Linked DNA regions of Homo sapiens. The protein of the gene in region 1 purifies or fractionates together with the protein of each later gene. This does not show direct contact. Each region holds a gene or a part of one and is shown on either strand. Other genes may lie near its edges.

Region 1 (5,096 bases):
TGGGAGAGTCCAGGGAGAACTTTGGTGACCAATGCCCAGAGAACCTTGGTTGGGGATTAACAAGACTTTCTTCCCCATGGCCTGTGTCTGAGTGGCCCAGAGCTTTCTAGAACCCTCAAGATAGCCCTTGTGACAGACACAAGAGGACTGAGCACCTATGGTGGGAGAATGGGAAGTTCAGTTGGGACACTCACCCTCGCAGGGGGTCAACAGCGATGGCCCGGGGTTCACTGAGGTTACGGCTGAAGAGAGTGCGTCGGCGGCCACCATCAACTGTGGCCACTGAGATGGTCTTATTGCCCGAGTCAGTCCAGTAGATGTGCTTGTGGACCCAGTCCACTGCCAGGCCCTCTGGAGAGTGCAACTGCTCGTCAATGAGGACCTCCTGCTCTTTCGGGTCACTGGCCTTGTCCATGTAGGCGCTTAAGAGAAAACAGAGATGACCATGGGGCAGATGTTCCACCCATGGGCCCATCTGGAGCTACCTGTGCACCCTTCCCCTCTCTTCCATCTGGGCCATGGCAATAGATTTTTAGAGGAACGTGGATAATTTCCACTCTACACATTCCCTGGGGTACCAGGGTAGGGGTACAGACTTACATGGGCCACGGTCTCTGGCTTTCTAAGGTGGGGCTGCTCCACAGCTCTGCCCATTAGGGTGAGCCAGATATAATACAATGTGATTATGGAAAGCATTAGAGGCTATGGCAGCAGAGGCATGGAGACTGCCTCATCCGAGAGGGCGGGAGAAGGCTTTATAGTTGAGTCCTGAAGGACGAGTTCACCAGGAGCATGAAGTCACCAGGACAGAAAGCCATTAGGGAACAAGAAAGGCTTGTGCAAATGGCCAGAGGTGAGTCTGCTCTGGAACAGTGAGATACTTAGGGGAGCTGCTTATGTGGGTGTCAGACTGCAAGCAGGTGTAGGCAGGAACCCCATCTTGATGGGCTTTGAGTACCACGCCAAGGAATTAGGATTTCTCCCCAGTGATAACTAGACAGGCCAGAGGATATAGTCCAATAAGCATGTTAGTTCACTGTGGCATCTATGGAGTGGATGGGTTGGAAGGAGAGGGAATGAAGCAGGGAAACTGGTTAGGAGGACGTTACAGCATCTGGGTGGGAGATTAAGAGAGTCTGAAGAATGACCGTGCCAGTGAGAATGGAAAGAAGGGCTAAGAATACAGTAGACACTCAGGAGGCAACATTAGCAAAATAGCAAATGCTGTTTCCCCAGAGGTTTTCTTCTTCTTGCCCTCTCTCTGGGTGATTAGTTCCTTAGTGTCCACTGCCATCAATAACTAAGTCTCCAATCCCAACAGCTCTCTTACGATCCAGACTGCAAAGCTAACTAGCTCCCCTTGGATGTCCCATGGACACCTTGAACTCAATATGTCCAAAACTGTTCATCCCCATTCCCTTCCCCTCGGCCAACCAGACGGCCCAAACCCTGAGCCCTGATCCTCCTCTACTGCTTCACACATCAGAGAACAGCACCACCATTCATGAAACCTCCCAAGCCAAAAACCTGAAACTCCCAAAATTCACTATGAAGGAGTAAATTTCTTCCATCAGCCCCATATCTAGTCTGTCACCAAATCCTGCCTCTTTCAGTTACATCTCTTGGACAGGCATTGTTCTAGTTATGTTTTTGGGTGTGTGTGAACGGAGTGTCTGTATGTTGCAGGGAGGCAGGAATCTAGTTGTCAGTGAGTAGCACTTGCTATATTTGCTTCCATCCACTCTTCCACCCATCTGTCCCATCATTCTTTCATCAGTGACTCAGTGTCTACCCAGCGCCTGGTCATCGGCATTCCTGCCAAGTGGATCTCAGGACAAAGAAAGGACATGACTGCCTGAAGAGGGCCCAGACATGCAGTGGGGCAGGTGCTGGCATCTGAGAAAGTCCTAGGAGAGAACCTCCTCCAGTGTGTGAAGAGCTTCCCAAGCACCAGGTCCACTGACTGTGGCGTCAAAGACAGTGAAAAGCTGGCCTTGGGGTGATGCCATCCAGGAAGGCATGCCAGATCAGATGCCCAGGTGGGTTCGGAGGCCTCCTCTGTACTTTCTCATGATCATCACAAATGGATGTCACTGTGTTGTGAGTGGGATCCTCTGGGCAGGGACCAGGTCTAAGTCCCCAGGTTCCAACACACAGGGATGTGAGCTGCTTGGAAAGTCCTCCCCAAAGCCAGGATTTCTTCCTTTCTGCCCTGGCCAAACAGTTCCTGTGTCTTGTGCTTCCATATTAGGCCTCCAGAGGTCAGACAAATCCCAGGTGTTTGGGGCTCAAAGCTGCTAACCCAAGGGAGCCCTCAGACTACTCCAGCCCCAGTAAAGTCCCAGAAGTTCCATATCCACTGTGATCCTGCATCTCTTCCCAAGTCCCAACTCTGTCCTGAGGAGCTCTAGAGGCAGACACCACTCCTCCCCTCCTCACCTGTCACCACCCCTCACCCCCACTCTTCATGCCTTGCTGCAGAGGATATGGCCGCTCACCTATAGATCTTACGGTAGGAGAGGTCACACCAGTAGATGCGATTGGTGGCAACTTCCACATCTAGTGCCACGACATTCTTGAGCATGGGGATGAGGCGTGAATAGTTCCGCTTCACCAGGTCGATCCTCCGCACCTCGTGCCGGTTGGTGAAGATTAGGGATGGGCTCTTGCCAGCTGTCATGCAGGGAGGTTGAAAGAGAAAGAGTCAGTGCAAGAGGCAGGGAGCCTGGAGACCAAGACTCTGCCACTGGCTTGCTGGCTGACACATCCATTTTCCTTAAAATAGTAGTGACAATTCCTACTTTACAGGTTGCAGGAGCAGATGAAATAATGAGTACAGAAAGCAGAAGATGCAGAGCACCACGCATAGCAGGAAGATTCTTATTCTTTTTATTAGATACAAACTTCTCCAAAATCTTTTATGGCTCCCCATTTTCTCCTTAGGCCTGCACTGAAAGCCTTCCACAGTGTGACCCCAAGTTCCCTGTCCAGCCTCATTACTCGCCTCTCCAACATAGCTTGATTCCACCTACCAGATACCATTACCTAGCCATGGATGGGCTTCCTGCCTCAGAGCCTTTGCTCAGGTTGTCCCTTCCACCTACTATGTATTTCTTTCCAGCAACTATCATCTTCTCTGCTTGGGCCCTACTGCTGTGGTTCAAGAAGGAACTACCTGAGCAAGTAAGTGTCTTAGAAAGATAACTAGGGGCCAGGCACAGTGGCTCACACCTGTAATCCCAGCACTTTAGGAGGCTGAGGCTGGCACATCGCTTGAGGCCAGGAGTTTGAGACTAGCCTGGGTAATATGGCAAAATCCCATCTCTAAAAATAAAAATAAAAAAAAAATTAGCTGGGCATGGTGGCACATGCCTGTAGTCCCAGCTACTCAGGAGGCTGAAGTGGGAGAATCATTTGAGCCCGGGAGGTTAAGGCTGCAGTGAGCCATGATTGTGCCACTGCACTCCAGCCTGAGTGACAGAGACTCTGTCTCAAAGGAAAAAAAAAAAGATGATTCAGGATAGAAAGTATTGGGGACATAGCAAGAGATGAGCTTCAGAGATTGGCAGGGGCCAGATCACAAAAGGTCCTATGAGCTGGGTGAGTTTGTTCTCTATCCTGAGCCAATGGCAGAGATGGGACATATATGATATACAACACAGATTATATATATGCAGTAGAGACAACATAAACTGCTCATGTATACACAAAACCTGTATTTTTCTTAGATTTAGGGTTAGATTTTAAGATGATAAATAAGTGACCTAGACTTTCCTGGCTACTCCATATGGGAGGACACTGTCCCATGGGCCTCTGAGGGCCTAGCACCAGCTCCCACAGGCTGTTTCTAGATGTATTGGGCCACTCTCAGGCACCAACACTGTCTGAGGGGCTGCTCCTAGTAACACCTGCCCCTCAAGCTCCCTGTGCCTCCTTCTCTTGTTTTCCAGCTGACACTTCTGCCAGCCACCAGTCCCTGTCACTGTGCATCTTTGCCAAGCTAATGTGCTCCCTGGAGGATGGGACCAGCACAGAGTCAGGTAGGGCCTGGGGCTGGGTGTGTGACCTGTGTGTAGTGATGGAGACTAATTCAAAGCAGGGTGGGAGTGAGACAGAAGTGTGGTACAAATAGCATGGAGAATGGGCTCAAGGTGCAGGAAGGGGCAAGGATGAAAGCTGAGTTACAGGCCAGCTCTGCCACTGACAAGCTGTGATTTCCCTCACCCCAAAATGACAGTAATGACACTTCACCTCCCTGAAGGCAGGAGCCAGGTTAAAGGGGCATGTTGGAGTGATCTTAAATGACAGCTGTGACTGTGACAGGAACCCCCTGTGTTTATGATTTGAGATTTTATGTAACTGCACTTGAAATATTCATGTGTGTGGATTTTGTATATGCATGGGTAGTTGCATGTTGTCTCCAGTGCATGTACATAATCTGTGTCATGTATTACATGTGTTCTATATGGGGGCAAGAACAGGTTACACGTTATATGTGATATACTAATGTATGAGTTACATATTGTACAGTTTGGGTGTTACAGTTTTTGGGTTTATGGGCTACATGTCAGTATTATGGCTGCTGTATTGTTATAATTTATCTGTTGTATATTGTATTTAACTTGCATATGAACTCCAGACTCATATATCCAGCTGCCTTCTCAATATCTCTACTTGGATACCTAACCAGTTTTCTTAAACATAACATGTCCAAAACAGCCTAAGATTCCTCCAAACCTGCTTCCCTCACCATCTTTCCCAAGCCCATACGTAGCAATCTTATTTTTTCAGTTGCTGTAACTTTTTTTTCCACATTCCACATTCAATTCATAAGCAAATCCTGTTGGCTGGCCTTTGCACTATATCTGCAGTCTGTCCACTTTTCATTATTCCCACAGTAATAATGTGGGAATAAGGGTTCAGCCACCATCACCTCGCTTCTGGATTATTGCAATGACCTCTTAAGTGGTTTCCCTGCCTTCTCCCTTGTCCTCTACAGTCTGTTCTCAATACTGCAGTCAGAATAAAATGTCACACCATGTCCCTTCCCTACTCAGAGCCCTCAATGGTTTCCCCCCAGTTAGAGTGAAATCCAG
Region 2 (4,297 bases), on another chromosome or scaffold:
GAGCCGAGATGGCGCCATTGCACTCCAGCCTGGGCAACAGAGACCCTATCTTTAAAAAAAAAAAGAAGAAAGAAACCAAGGAAGAAGAGTCCATACTTCCTTGGTTATAGACAGAGCCTTTGAAGGGTTCCCACAGAAGGCAGTTTGCAAAGGCCTTGGTGAGGCTGAGGACAGATGTCTGAGGGGCCACAGAAACCATGAGCATTGGTGTCTCTTGGGATGGTGTAGTGGGCTGGGGAAAAGTCACCACGCTGTGGACCTCAGGGACCCCTCCTCCACCCCAGCGTCTGCCTGCCTGACAAGAATATTGTGCATGCATTACCATAAGAGCAAAGCACTCTGGGATCCTGGAAAGAAGGGAATATGGATTAGTTTGCAAGTCAGGTTTTGCTCTGGGAGCACATTGCAATACTCACTTCCTCCTTGGAAACAGAGGTGTGGCCTTCCTCACATGACCTTCGATGCTTCCAGGTGCCTCTGGTGCAACAAGGTTCCCGAGAACTGCAGGACTCTTTTCATTTGAGACCAAGCCCGTATTCCAACTGCGGGAGTCTCCCGAACACCATCCTGCCAGGTGAGCGAGCTATCCCTCAGCTTCTTTACTGCTTTTATGTTGTTGTGTGTTCAGGAACCTTCATAAGAGAGTTTAAACAACATAATATTATATAAAGCAAAAAGTTAACGTTCCCTGGGTCGACTTGACTTTTTGAGATGCAGGTGTCCAGCCTCAGAGACCGTGACACAGGGCGGTGGGCCTGGTAGTCAAAGCCTTTTCTGAAAGATTTCATCTGGCCCAGTGCGGTGGCTCACGCCTGTAATCCCAGCACTTTGGGAGGCCGAGGTGGGCGGATCATCAGGTCAGGAGATCGAGACCATTCTGGCTAACACAGCGAAACCCCGTCTCTACTAAAAAATACAAAAAAAATTAGCTGGGCATGGCGGCGGGCGCCTGTGGTCTCAGCTACTCGGGAGGCTGAGGCAGAATGGCACCAACCCAGGAGGTGGAGCTTGCAGTGAGCCGAGATTGTGCCACTGTACTCCAGCCTGGGCAACAGTCTCCAAAAAAAAAAAAAGATTTCATCTTAGGTGACTGATGACTGTTCAAAAGGAAAAAACCTGCAAAAATTGGGAGTTGTGCAACTGACTGACAAGAATGTAGATTCCAGGGCAAGAACTGTGGGCCTGGGGGTGGTCAGGATGTGTGGGATAGCAGTTTAGGGGACTGTCATCAGCTGGGTTTGCTTAGTAGCCTGGAGCCTTCGCGCCTCCTAACCGCACTGTTTTCCCCTCTGGCCACTCCTTTCAGAAGACTCCAGCACCAGCCTGTTCAAAGACCTCAACAGTGCGCTGGCAGGCCTGCCTGAGGTCAGCCTGAACGTGGACACTCCATTTCCACTGGAAGAGGAGCTGCAGATTGAACCCCTGAGCCTGGACGGACTCAACATGTTAAGTGACTCCAGCATGGGCCTGCTGGACCCCTCTGTTGAAGAGACGTTTCGAGCTGACAGACTGTGAACAGAAGGCAGTGGAACAGAAGAATGTTTTTCTGCAACAGCCAAAATAGAATGGAATAGAATGAAGCCAGCTGATACCACGGGCTTTCGTTATCTTGACATAGAAGGAAGCAATGCCACGGCTCCAGGGTTTCAGATGAGATCCCATCTCAGACACTGTGGCTTCCTCCAGATCACACAGCTTTGTACTGCCTCTCCCGCCTGTGGCCAAAGTCGTGTTGCAGCAGGCAGGCTGCTTGGAGCTTCCCATGAACTGGAAAGCTCACCTCCACTGCATCTTTTTACTGGCCATCCAGTCAGCCGATGTGTAAGAGTAGGAAATACTGTGTCACTGGAGGCCTCCGTAGCATTGTGTAGTGTGCTCAGAACCACTGATCTCCGTCCGCACCGAAGGCGGGCCCGGAGTGGGAGGCTCGGCCTGGGGCGGCGGCACCGGAGAGGGCACCTCGATGCCTGCTCTGACCTGACCCAGAGGGCGAGGCCCTCCAGCGGGGGACATTCCCAGGCTGAGTGGACCCCACGGCTCTCTCCCACGCCTGGATTACGACATGAAGTTTTTACCACAAGCCCGAGGGCAGGCTTGAGTTAGGCAGACTGAAGGCTAATTTTCATTTTCTCCCAGCTGGTTTCTGCTGCTTCAGAAAAGTACACCTTTTCCTTATGGACCAGAGGAAGAGGAAGACCATTTTATCAGTCACTGAAAAGAGTCCCCTGGCACTGATGAGCCTGAAGAGAACTGTGCTCCTCCTCGGGGGCTGGGGAAGGAAGACAGGGACTGCAGGTGTCTCATACTCAGTGGCCTCCAGACAAACTCCAGACAAGCACAGACCTCCCCACTAAGAGCAGCCAGAGGGAGCTGGTGAGGCCCTAACCCCACCCACCGAGCAACTGAGCTTCCCCATCCCTCCCCAGAGCTGTGTCTCTGTGGGCTGGGAGTCTAATGTCACCCCCCTAGACCGTAAGCTCCTTGAGGGCAGGGACAGTGCCTTATCATTGTTGAACCCGTAGCACCTAACACGTGCGTGGCAGCACAGTCGTGTGCTGGAGTGAGTGCTGCAGAACCGTGCGTGCAGCGCATGATGAATGAGTGCGTCCGCCATGCCGTAAGGCAGGCTCACCTGTAGCTATCCCCTTCCCTGCCAGATCTTCTCAGAGCTTTAGCTTTTCTAGCACTCGTGCCTATGGTGAAGCATGCACTTTAATATGCTTTTAACACTAGGTGACCAAATCACAGTGAAGCCGGGCACTGCATTCTCCTTGGGCTGTGCTCCACGCGGGTGGGTGGGAGCTGTCTTCTGAGTACATCCGGAAGGGCTGAGCAGGTGAGTGCCCTGAGCATCCTGGCTGGGCCCCACCCAGGAAGATCTTCCTTCTCAGATCCACGTTTGGCTCTAAATTGCTTCAAGTAGAGATTCATTCTTTGAGGTTGAAAAAATAGTTTATAGTAAAACGAAGGCCTAATTCATGGAAGCATCATTAGTCATCAATACCTTCTCATAAAATAGATGGGCCAGATTTCCACCACCGCCTGCCTCCTCTAACTTGGGTGATGCCAGTAGGTTTGAAGGGGGCAGAGCACTGCAGGGGGAGGGGGGGGTCTAGGCTGTGAGAGGACAGGGTGGAGAGGAGGAGAACCCTGAAGGAGAGACGGAAGATGCCAGGACCTTTGCTTGGACAGCCATTGCCCTTCCAGGAGACCCTGGAGTGTACTGAGGGTTGCTGGACTGTTCCACCCAGAGGAGCAAGGCTGTACAATGAGGGTCTGAATCTGGCACACCTGTCCCTTATGTAAAAGGAGTCGTGGTCACAAGACCCTGGGCTGGTTAGCCTCTCCCGACCTCATTCCATTTCTATCTTCTGACCTTGCCTCTCATCTTTAAAATAACCCTCATGGGGTGCCCCTCCACCTTCCTCTGGAATCCAAGTATTCCTGTTTCACATTTGCCCCAAATCTTTGCTGTGGAATTGGGAAATCAAACCAGAGTCCTCCTCGCCTGATTTCCAGCTCAGGAAGGGCCTGCTGGCCTGCCCTGTTCCCAGTTACACTTTCAGATCCCTTTGTGCTCAAGATCTCAGAGGGGGTGGCTTTTTGTTAAAGAGCCTTCAGTCGCAATGCTACCCAGCACCCCATGTGCCAAAAGAAACCAGCTCCTGTGTCAAAGGGCTTCCAAACCTGATCTCACTCTCAACAGGCGATGGTGCTGATGTTTCAAGAATTGTGTTTTTATAAAACAGAGGTCTCAGCATAGTCACTCTTCACATAGTGCCTTACCCATGGGTATCGTCATATCCGGGTCCCAGTTCAGTTTGTCTGCACAGCAGCCACCCTGCCTGGCAACAGAGACCCCAAGACCTACACAGTGAACCCTACTGCCCCAAAGGCGTTCTCCAGGTGACTTGTGAAAACAGACCTCCGGGGAAGTGATTTATTGGGGGTGTACACTGGGGGCAATATGGTTTAGCACTGAATTCAATTTGTCCTTAGGTCTATGAGTGAGTCCGATCTTTTCTTGTGAAAGGTTTTGGGCATCGTACAACCCACTCTGCCTAGAAGGTGTGGAGGACTCACCACGGGCAGGGTCGCCCTGGCCCACAGCACGTGAGCCTGCACTCACTGCGGCCTTTGTAACAAAACCAGTTGTGGTCCTCAGCATTTGAAGCAGCTGCATACTTCAGAGTAAACTATTTTTCATTATTTAGTTTTGTCACAAGAAATCGACCATTGTACTACTCTCACTTACAGCAGTTAAACAGCATAGAACTAAAAACCTGTCTGCATTTCC
Region 3 (4,297 bases), on another chromosome or scaffold:
TGTTCGTTCCCTCCGGTGGGTTCGTGGTCTTCCTGGCTTCAGGAGTGAAGCTGCAGACCTTCGCGGTGAGTGTTACGGTTCATGAAGATAGCATGTCCAGAGTTGTTCCTTCCTCCCGTCAGGAGTTGTTCTTCCCTCCCAGTGGGTTCATGGTCTCGCTGGCTTCAGGAGTGAAGCTGCAGACCTTCTCGGTGAGTGTCACAGCTCATAAAGGCGGCGCGGACCCAAAGAGTGAGCACCAGCAAGATTTAGTGCGAAGAGCAAAAGAACAAAGCTTCCACAGCATGGAAGGGGACCCCAGCGTGTTGCCGCTGCTGGCTTGGGTGGCCTGCTTTTATTCCCTTATCTGGCTCCACCCACCTCCCACCGATTGGTCCATTTTACACAGAGCTGATTGGTCCGTTTTGACAGGGTGCTGATTAGTATGTTTACAAACCTTCAGCTAAACACAGAGTGCTGATTGGTGCATTTACAATACTTTAGCTAGACACAAAAGTTCTCCAAGTCCCCACTAGATTAGCTAGACACAGAGCACTGATTGGTGCGTTTACAAACCTTGAGCTAGACACGGGTGCTGCTGACTGGTGCGTTTACAAACCTTGAGCTAGACACACGTGCTGCTGACTGGTGCGTTTACAAACCTTGAGCTAGACACACAGTGCTGATTGGTGCGTTTACAAACCTTTAGCTAGACACAGACTGCTGATTGGTGTGTTTACAAACCTTTAGCTAGACAGAAAAGTTCTCCAAGTCCCCACCCGACCCAGAAGCCCAGCCGGCTTCACCTCTCAATGGTGGGACTTCACGGCACCTAGCCCGGGCACTCCGGCAGCCCAGAGGAAGCTCGTCCCAGATCAAGCCCAGCAGGCGCCAGCCACAGCACCGGCTCCCGCCCACGCCTCTCCCTCCACACCTCTCTGCGAGCAGAGGGAGCCGGCTCTGGCCTCGGCCAGCCCCAGAGAGAGGCCCCCACAGCGCAGCAGCTGGCTGAAGGGCTCCTCCAGCGTGGCCAGAGCGGACGCCGAGGAGGCGCCGAGAGCAAGCGAGGGCTGCCAGCACGTTGTCACCTCTCACCTCCACGCCCAGCTAATTTTTGTACTTTTAGTATAGACAGGGTTTCACCATGTTGGTCAGGATGGTCTTGATCTCTTGACCTCATGATCCGCCCGCCTGGGCCTCCCAAAGTGCTGGGATTAGAGGCCTGAGCCACCGTGCCTGGCCTGCATATTTTTAAGGTTCACACACGTTATAACATGAATCAGTAACTCACTTCCTTTTATTGCCAAATAATATTCCATTGCAGGAATGGACCACATTGTGTTTATCCGTTCATCCGCTGATGGACATTTAGGTTGTCTCCACTTTCTGGCTGTTGTGAACACTCATGGACAAGCTTCTGCGTGGACGTGTATATTTCCAGTCACTCAACCAAAAGAACACACAAAAGGTGAACCAGTTTCCAACTGAGACATTCATTTAATTTGACCTACTATATTATTTAAAATATAGAGAGATGAGATAATTAGGAGAAATAAATGACCAAAGGAAGTGCAGAAATAAAGACACTAAGAGACAAGAGCAAACCCTGATGTGACGGAATAAACGGTGATTGAAGAAAGAGATGCTATTTCTAGGATGGGTCCTACAGGTACATTTGCAAAACACTGTGCCTATAGCCTTGCTGGTAACAGCATGAAAATTCCACAGCACCTCCATACAGCCAAATACAGTGCGGCCATGGAAAGAATGTACCGGAAAATGTACTGATATGGAAAGATCTCTCAAACATAGTTGAAAAAGGCAAGGTTCAGAAACTTTTTAAAAAGAAAAGGGTAAGGAAAAAAACAGAATACATACACTTGTTTGCTTGCAAAGTTACAAAGTATCTCTAGAAGGATACACAAGAAGCTGGTCCAGCAAAGCTTCCAGGGGAACCAGGTTCCAGGGTAGAGACTAGGAGGCTTCACTGAGCTCCCTTTGTACTTTTGAACCACGTATATTATCTGCTCAAAAATGTTAAACAAAATTGAAACTTTCTAGGAAGCAAAAATAGAGAATCTGTGAGAATCAAGACATTTACACTTAGGAAAGCAAGTTACAAGAGAGGCCCAGGAAGATGGAAGCAGCCGACGTGGGAAATGTGTCAACGAGTCCCTCCCCCTGCTGCGCCAGCCATTCTCTGAGGGCAACTCCCCATCCTAAACCCAATCATCTTTACTGAAGCCAGTGCTCAAAGAAAATGTTGCAATCTGCAGCAAGACATTCAGAACACAAACAGCCAAGTGCCATGGCTCATGTCTACAATCCTGGCACTTTCGGAGGCCGAGGTGGGAGGATCACTTGAGCCCAGGAGATGGAGGCTGCACTGAGCTGTGATCATACCACTGCACTCCAGCCTGGACAACCCACCCTGACTCTCTCTCTAAAAAAAAAAAAAGAAAATACAAATGTATCTGCTGCCCTCAAGGACTTCCCAGTCTAGAGGGGAGAAAATATTATGTGATTGTGCAGTGACCAAAAGCACCACCTAGAGCACTACGAGAGGGGGTGGAGCACCTGAGGACAAGGCAGCGATCCAGGAGGCGCTCCCACAGACATTACCTGAGTCTGAGTCAAAGGGCTGAAGGAACCAGTGAGCTTGGCTTAGTTTTGGAAGGAGGGACGCCAAGAAAGACTTGGCCCATGACCACATGGCAGTTTTTCTGGAGAGCAGAGTAGGTTGGGGTCACGCAGCGCTGTGGAGCATGGTCCAGGAGGCACTGGGGAGCCAGGGAGGAGAGCCAGGCAGCAGAGTCACTCGCCTAGACGCTCTGAGCCTGGCGCCATCCTGTGCACTGTAGGATTTCAACAGCATCCCCAGCCTCCACAAATCCTTGGCCATCCCCTCCTAGTTGGGACAACCAAAAATGTCTCCAAATATTGCCAAATGTGGCAGGAGGGCGGGGAGTGGTGTCAGAATCACCCCTGGGGAGATCACTGCCCTGTTTATATCATCTGAGCAGCTATGTGGCAGAGACAGGGGAGTGGCTCAAGGCTGGGGCAGGAGAGCCCCAGGAGGTACAGCGTAGTGCAGGAGGGACATGGTGCAGGTCCCACTCAGGCAGGGGTTCTGATCACTGTTCAGGGGGAACTGGCAAGAGGACCTGGAGCCGTACCACATGGCAGCTGAGAGGGGGACCCAGCACGCCAAAATTCTAGGTGGTGACCAAGCAGGTGAAGGTCCCAAAGCCCCAAAGGGTTGAGGCCAGAAGTGAATGTGGGTGCTGAGTCTGAGCCGCCTCAGGGGCTCTCGCGCATGGTGGCCGGCTCCAGCGTCCAGCATCTGCGGCTGAGGGGAGACATCCAGCTGCACCTTCAGTCATGGTGAGATGGCCCAGACAGCAGGTACGGGCTCCTCAGCTCTGCTCAGCACAGCGTCCGAGCAGGGGCTCACCTTCCCCATAGGAGGCTGTACGTCACACCCTGCTTTGGTCCGTGGACCCTGAGATGCCAGTCCAGGATGGTGCCGGAAAAGACACTAGGTTTCTGCCACTCTCTTGCCATAAAAACAGCATGTGCCACATAAGGCCTGGTCCTGGATCTGGAAATGAAGACTCTTGGAAAAGAGTCACAAGCAAACGAAACGCGGGCAGGAATCAGCCTCTGCTGCTGTGAGCGCTGCAGTGCTGGGGTTGCTACTGCAACTCGCTCTGGAGAAAGCTGTCCAGTAAACTCCTGGATTTGGATTTCTTCCTTCACCAACCCATCCTACAGAACATTGCCAATTAAATCTCCCTAAACCATTAATCAGGACATCCCCTGCTCACAAAGCTGCCTGCGGTGGCTCCCGGTTAGCTAGAAAATTAAAATCTAGGCCGGGCGCAGTGTCTCACGCCTGTAATCCCAGCACTTTGGGAGGCCAAGGCGGGCGGATCACGAGGTCAGGAGATCGAGACCATCCTGGCTAACACAGTGAAACCCCGTGTCTACTAAAAACACAAAAAATTAGCCGGGCATGGTGGTAGGCACCTGTAGTCCCAGTTACTTGGGAGGCTGAGGCAGGAGAATGGCGTGAACCCAGGATGCGGAGCTTGCAGTGAGTCGAGATCGCGCCGCCGCACTCCAGCCTGGACGACAGAGCAAGACTCCATCTCAAAAACAAAAAGAAAATTAAAATCTAAAGCCTTTAACTGGAATTCAAAGACCTTCTCATTATGACCCTTATCTCCCATTATTCCTTACACAACCTTTAAACCGCTAGAAACCACACATAACCAACCTTCTCACCTTTGCTCCCAAAATGTGAAAATACTTCTGT
Region 4 (4,297 bases), about 160 Mb from region 1:
TATCTATTTTTTAAAATTATTATCATTATTGAGACGGAGGCTTGCTTTGTCACCCAGGCTGGAATGCGGTGGTGCGATCTCGGCTCACTGCAACCTCTGCCCCCCAGGGTTCAAGCAATACTCTGCCTCAGCCTACCTGGGATTACACGTGCATGCCACCATGCCCGGCTAATTTTTTGTATTTTTAGTAAAGATGGGGTTTCACCATCTTGGCCAGACTGCTCTTGAACTCCTGACCTCGTGATCCACCCACCTCAGCCTCCCAAAGTGCCGAGATTACAGGCACGAGCCACCACGCCCGGCCAGAATGTTTTAATTTTTTTTTTAATAGAGGCAGGGTCTCACTGTGTTGCCCAGGCTGGTTTCAAACTCCTGGGCTCAAGCAATCCTCCCGCCCTGGCCTCCCAAAGTGCTGAGATTATAGGCGTGAGCCAACACGCCCAGCCAATATCTTTTTTATATCCTATATTGTTACAAAAAGATTTAAGAGTTACTCAAAACGAAGTACTTGTTAGATTAGCCTCCTTATTAATCTTATTCAAAGAAGTTTTTACTATATTGAAAGGTTTAATCATGAATTTTAAAATATTCATTTAAAAAATTTTTTTAAAAATTGCTTCCATTCTTACTAGTTCTTATTTATGTAGTAATATTTTCTCAAAACAAGGTATACAAAATAAAGATTGAGAAGCAGATAAAATAAATGAGAATTGGTCCCTAAATTTAAATGTTAAAACAAAAAACTATAAAACAGCCACAATATAATTAACAATCAAGATATTTCAAGAATCTCCCTGAGACAAGATTTAAGTCTCTGTCCTGTTTTATTAACATGTATCAATTTCTCAACCATAGCCCCAAATATTCCTATTTCTTTAATGAAGAATTCCAGCATCTTCACCCCTCTGACAATCTTCTCCTACAGTTCAAGAGATAAATTAAAATGATCATCTTTTCAACTGGCATATTCATTTTTGGATCAATTCTCTTATAGATGGTTTTGAGATTTAGTAAATCAAAGACAACTAAAGATCCTTTTGAGATCTGAAAGATATTTTTATGTGATCTTGACCTTTGTTTAAGTATGTGAATTTCAAAGAGTATTTGAGCTGGTCCAGGTCCACAGACAAGCTGTTTCCCTTCCTAACACTACCTAGGTGCCTAGGTATGTTTCAGACATTGTGCTTTATATGCTTTGTCTCATCTAATCCTCACAACAATCCAAACTATAGACAAAGAAACTGAACCTCAGAGATGTTAAGTTTCTTGCTCAAAATCATTCGGCTAAAACACAGCAGAGTCAGGACTGGAACTCAGGCCTATCTGACTTAAGGGCCAGCACCCTTCACCAGCACGGAATACTATCACCTTCATTTTTTTATCCAAGTGATTTTTGAGAAATGAGTTTTTTATTCAACTAAAGTTAGCAAATGTCTCCTTTTGCTTTCCAGAACTCACTTTTCAGCTGTCACTAGGACCTCTGTTTGCTTCAGCTGTGTTTGTGTCAGATCACTGTCTGTAAGAATAGAGGAAAATATATTAATGTTATTGTTCTAGTTTGCCTTAATATCGTCATCTTACTCTAGAAACAATATTTAAGACTTATCTAGGTTAGAAAGATGCCTAGTTACATGTTTCATTCTGGAATCTATATATTTCGATGGCCTCCAGAATTAGGAAAAATAGAAAAATGCAAACAATTCCAAAGCAACATGCAAGTAAATCATGCACAGATAATTCTGGAAGTTCAACTTTAAAAAGGTAAATTTAGAGGTCTTAAGAAAAAAAATGAATAACTACATATTTATATATATGAATATTCATCCCTGAGATTTTTTCTTTTTAAAAACTTAGTTTTATGTCTTCAAAGGGAACATGATTACCCAGCAGACTGCCAAAATGTATTACAAACACTTACCTGTCTTTTCTACTTTTGGTACCTGCTGTACCTCATACACACAGTTCTGTGAGATACCTAGGTTTGGGGGCCAAATTGGAATAGATAAAATTCTTTGTCCCCGTGAAGACTGTTCCTGGCCAGATACCTAAACAAAATTTCAACAGGTATCTTAAGTGAAAAGATTTTAAATAGCTTATGAGTTGAAAAATTTATGTCTTAAATAAAAGGTAATCCAAAAGTGGTAAATTATTACCCTTTATTCATTGTATTAAGTGATTCTTTGGACTTATAAAATCTTCTTTTCTTTAAATACAATTCAGAAAGCACTTATCATTTACATAAAAATGACAATCTTTTTCCCATACATGCTTTTCTTTAATTTGGACATACAAATCATCTATCGCTTTGAACTAACACTATTCATCATTTTTTACTACCTGCAATATAGTTCCTATTGTATCAAATATAGGCATGCTCACAGGTACTGCGGGTTTGGTTTCAGGCCACCACAATAAAGTGAGTATCTCAATAAAGCAAGTCACATAATTTTTTCAGTTTCCCAGTGCATGTAAGTTGCGTTTATACTATACTGTAGTTTACTAAGTGTGCAATAGCATTATGCCTAAGAAAATACATACCTTAATTTAAAAATACTTCATTGTTAAAATATCCTAACAATCATCTCAGCCTTCAGTGAGTCATCATCTTTTTACAGGTGGAGGATCTTGCCTAGATATTAATGACTGCTGGCTGATCAGGGTGATGGTTGCTTAAAGTGGGGGTTGGCTGTGGCAATTTCTTAAAATAAGACAACAATGAAATTTGCTGCAGCCATTGATGCTTCCTTTCATAAAAGATTTTTCTGTAGCATCTGATGCTATTTGACAGCACTTTATCCACGGAACTTTTTTTCAAAATTGGAAACCCTTCCAATGTTTTATCAATTAAATTTATGTAACATTTAAAATCCTTTGTTGTAATTTCAGCAATGTTCACAGCATCTTCACCAGGAATAGAATGCATCTCAAGAAAATACTCTGCTCATCTATAAGAAGCAACTCCTCATCTATTTAAGTTTTATCATGAGATTGAAACAATTCAGTTAATTCTTCAGGCTCCACTTCTAGTTCTCTTGCTATTTCCACCACATCTACAGTTACTTCCTCCCCTGAAGTCTTGAACCCCTCAAAGTCATCCATGAGGGCTGGAATCAACTTCTACCAAACTCTTTTTAATGGTGATATTTTGACCTCCTCCCATGAATCACGAATGTTCTGAATAGCATTTAGGATGCTGAATCCTTTGCAGGTTTGCAATTTACTTTCCCCAGATCCATCAGAGAAATCACTTCTATGGCAGCTATAGCCTATGAAATGTATTTCTTAAATAAGGAGACCTGTAGGTACAAAATTACTCCTTGATTCCATAGGCTGCAGAATGGATGCCGTGTTAGCAGGGATGAAAAAACATTCATTTCCTTGTACATCTTCATCAGAGCTCTTGGGTGACCAGGTGCCTTGTGAACGAACAGTAATCTTTGGAAAGGAATCTGTTTTTCTGAATAGTGGTCTCAGCAGTGTGCTTAAAATATTCTATGCCATAAACAGATGCACTGTCATCCCCAAGCTTTGTTTTTCCACTGACATAGCACAGGTAGAGTGGATTTAGCATAATTTTTAAGTGCCCTAGGATTTTCAGAATGGTCAATGAATGCTGACTTTAACTTAAAGTAACAAGCTATATTAGCTCCTAACAAAAGAGTCAGCCTGTCCTTTGAAACCAGGCACTGACTTCTTCTTTCTAGTTATGAAGTCCTAGATGGCATCTTCTTGCAATATAAAGTGGTTTCATCCACATTAAAAATTGTTGGCCAGGTGCGGTGGCTCATGCCTGTAATCCCAACACTTTGAGGGGCTGAGGCAGGAGGATTGCTCAAGCCCAGGAGTTCGAGACCAGCCTGGGCAACATGGTGAAACGCCACCTCTACCAAAAAATATTAAAAAATTAGCCCGGCGTGGAGGCATGCACCTGTAATCCCACCTACTTGGGAAGCTGAAGCAGAATCGCTGGAACCCAGGAGGCAGAGGTAGCAGTGAACCGAGATCGTGTCACTGCAGTCCAGCCTGGGCAACAGCGCGAGATCCTGTCTCAAAAAAAAAAAAAAAAAAATCTATTATTTAGTGTAGCCACCTTCATCAATGATCTTAGCTAGATCTTCTGGATAACCTACTGCAGCTTCTACATCAGCAGCACTTGCTGCTTTACCTGTACTTTTATGTTATGGAGATGGCTTCATTCTTTAAACCTCATAAATTAACCTCTGTTAACTTCCAACTTCTCTTCTGCAGCTTCCTCATCTCTCAGCCTTCAAAAAATTGAAGAGACTTAATGCATTCC

Evidence for each region.
Region 2: the proteins of LRP8 (region 1) and CRTC3 purify together in Homo sapiens (affinity purification with mass spectrometry; one large-scale study listed by BioGRID and IntAct). This does not show direct contact.
Region 3: the proteins of LRP8 (region 1) and ARHGAP39 purify together in Homo sapiens (affinity purification with mass spectrometry; one large-scale study listed by BioGRID and IntAct). This does not show direct contact.
Region 4: the proteins of LRP8 (region 1) and ANGEL2 purify together in Homo sapiens (affinity purification with mass spectrometry; one large-scale study listed by BioGRID and IntAct). This does not show direct contact.

Annotation. Positions count from the first base shown.
Region 1 is NC_000001.11:53,263,975-53,269,070, forward strand, and holds part of LRP8 (low-density lipoprotein receptor-related protein 8 isoform 1 precursor), read right to left. Parts: exon of another isoform or gene 3,951-5,096; intron 3,184-3,950; exon of another isoform or gene 3,122-3,183; intron 2,674-3,121; coding exon 2,499-2,673; intron 2,040-2,498; exon of another isoform or gene 1,778-2,039; intron 423-1,777; coding exon 195-422; intron 1-194. UniProt on the Homo sapiens protein: Cell surface receptor for Reelin (RELN) and apolipoprotein E (apoE)-containing ligands. LRP8 participates in transmitting the extracellular Reelin signal to intracellular signaling processes, by binding to DAB1 on its cytoplasmic tail.
Region 2 is NC_000015.10:90,640,626-90,644,922, forward strand, and holds part of CRTC3 (CREB-regulated transcription coactivator 3), read left to right. Parts: intron 1-416; exon of another isoform or gene 417-471; coding exon 472-574; exon of another isoform or gene 575-632; intron 633-1,306; coding exon 1,307-1,515; 3' UTR 1,516-4,297. UniProt on the Homo sapiens protein: Transcriptional coactivator for CREB1 which activates transcription through both consensus and variant cAMP response element (CRE) sites.
Region 3 is NC_000008.11:144,675,847-144,680,143, forward strand, and holds part of ARHGAP39 (rho GTPase-activating protein 39), read right to left. Parts: intron 1-4,297.
Region 4 is NC_000001.11:212,998,868-213,003,164, forward strand, and holds part of ANGEL2 (protein angel homolog 2), read right to left. Parts: intron 2,046-4,297; coding exon 1,919-2,045; intron 1,517-1,918; coding exon 1,459-1,516; intron 1-1,458.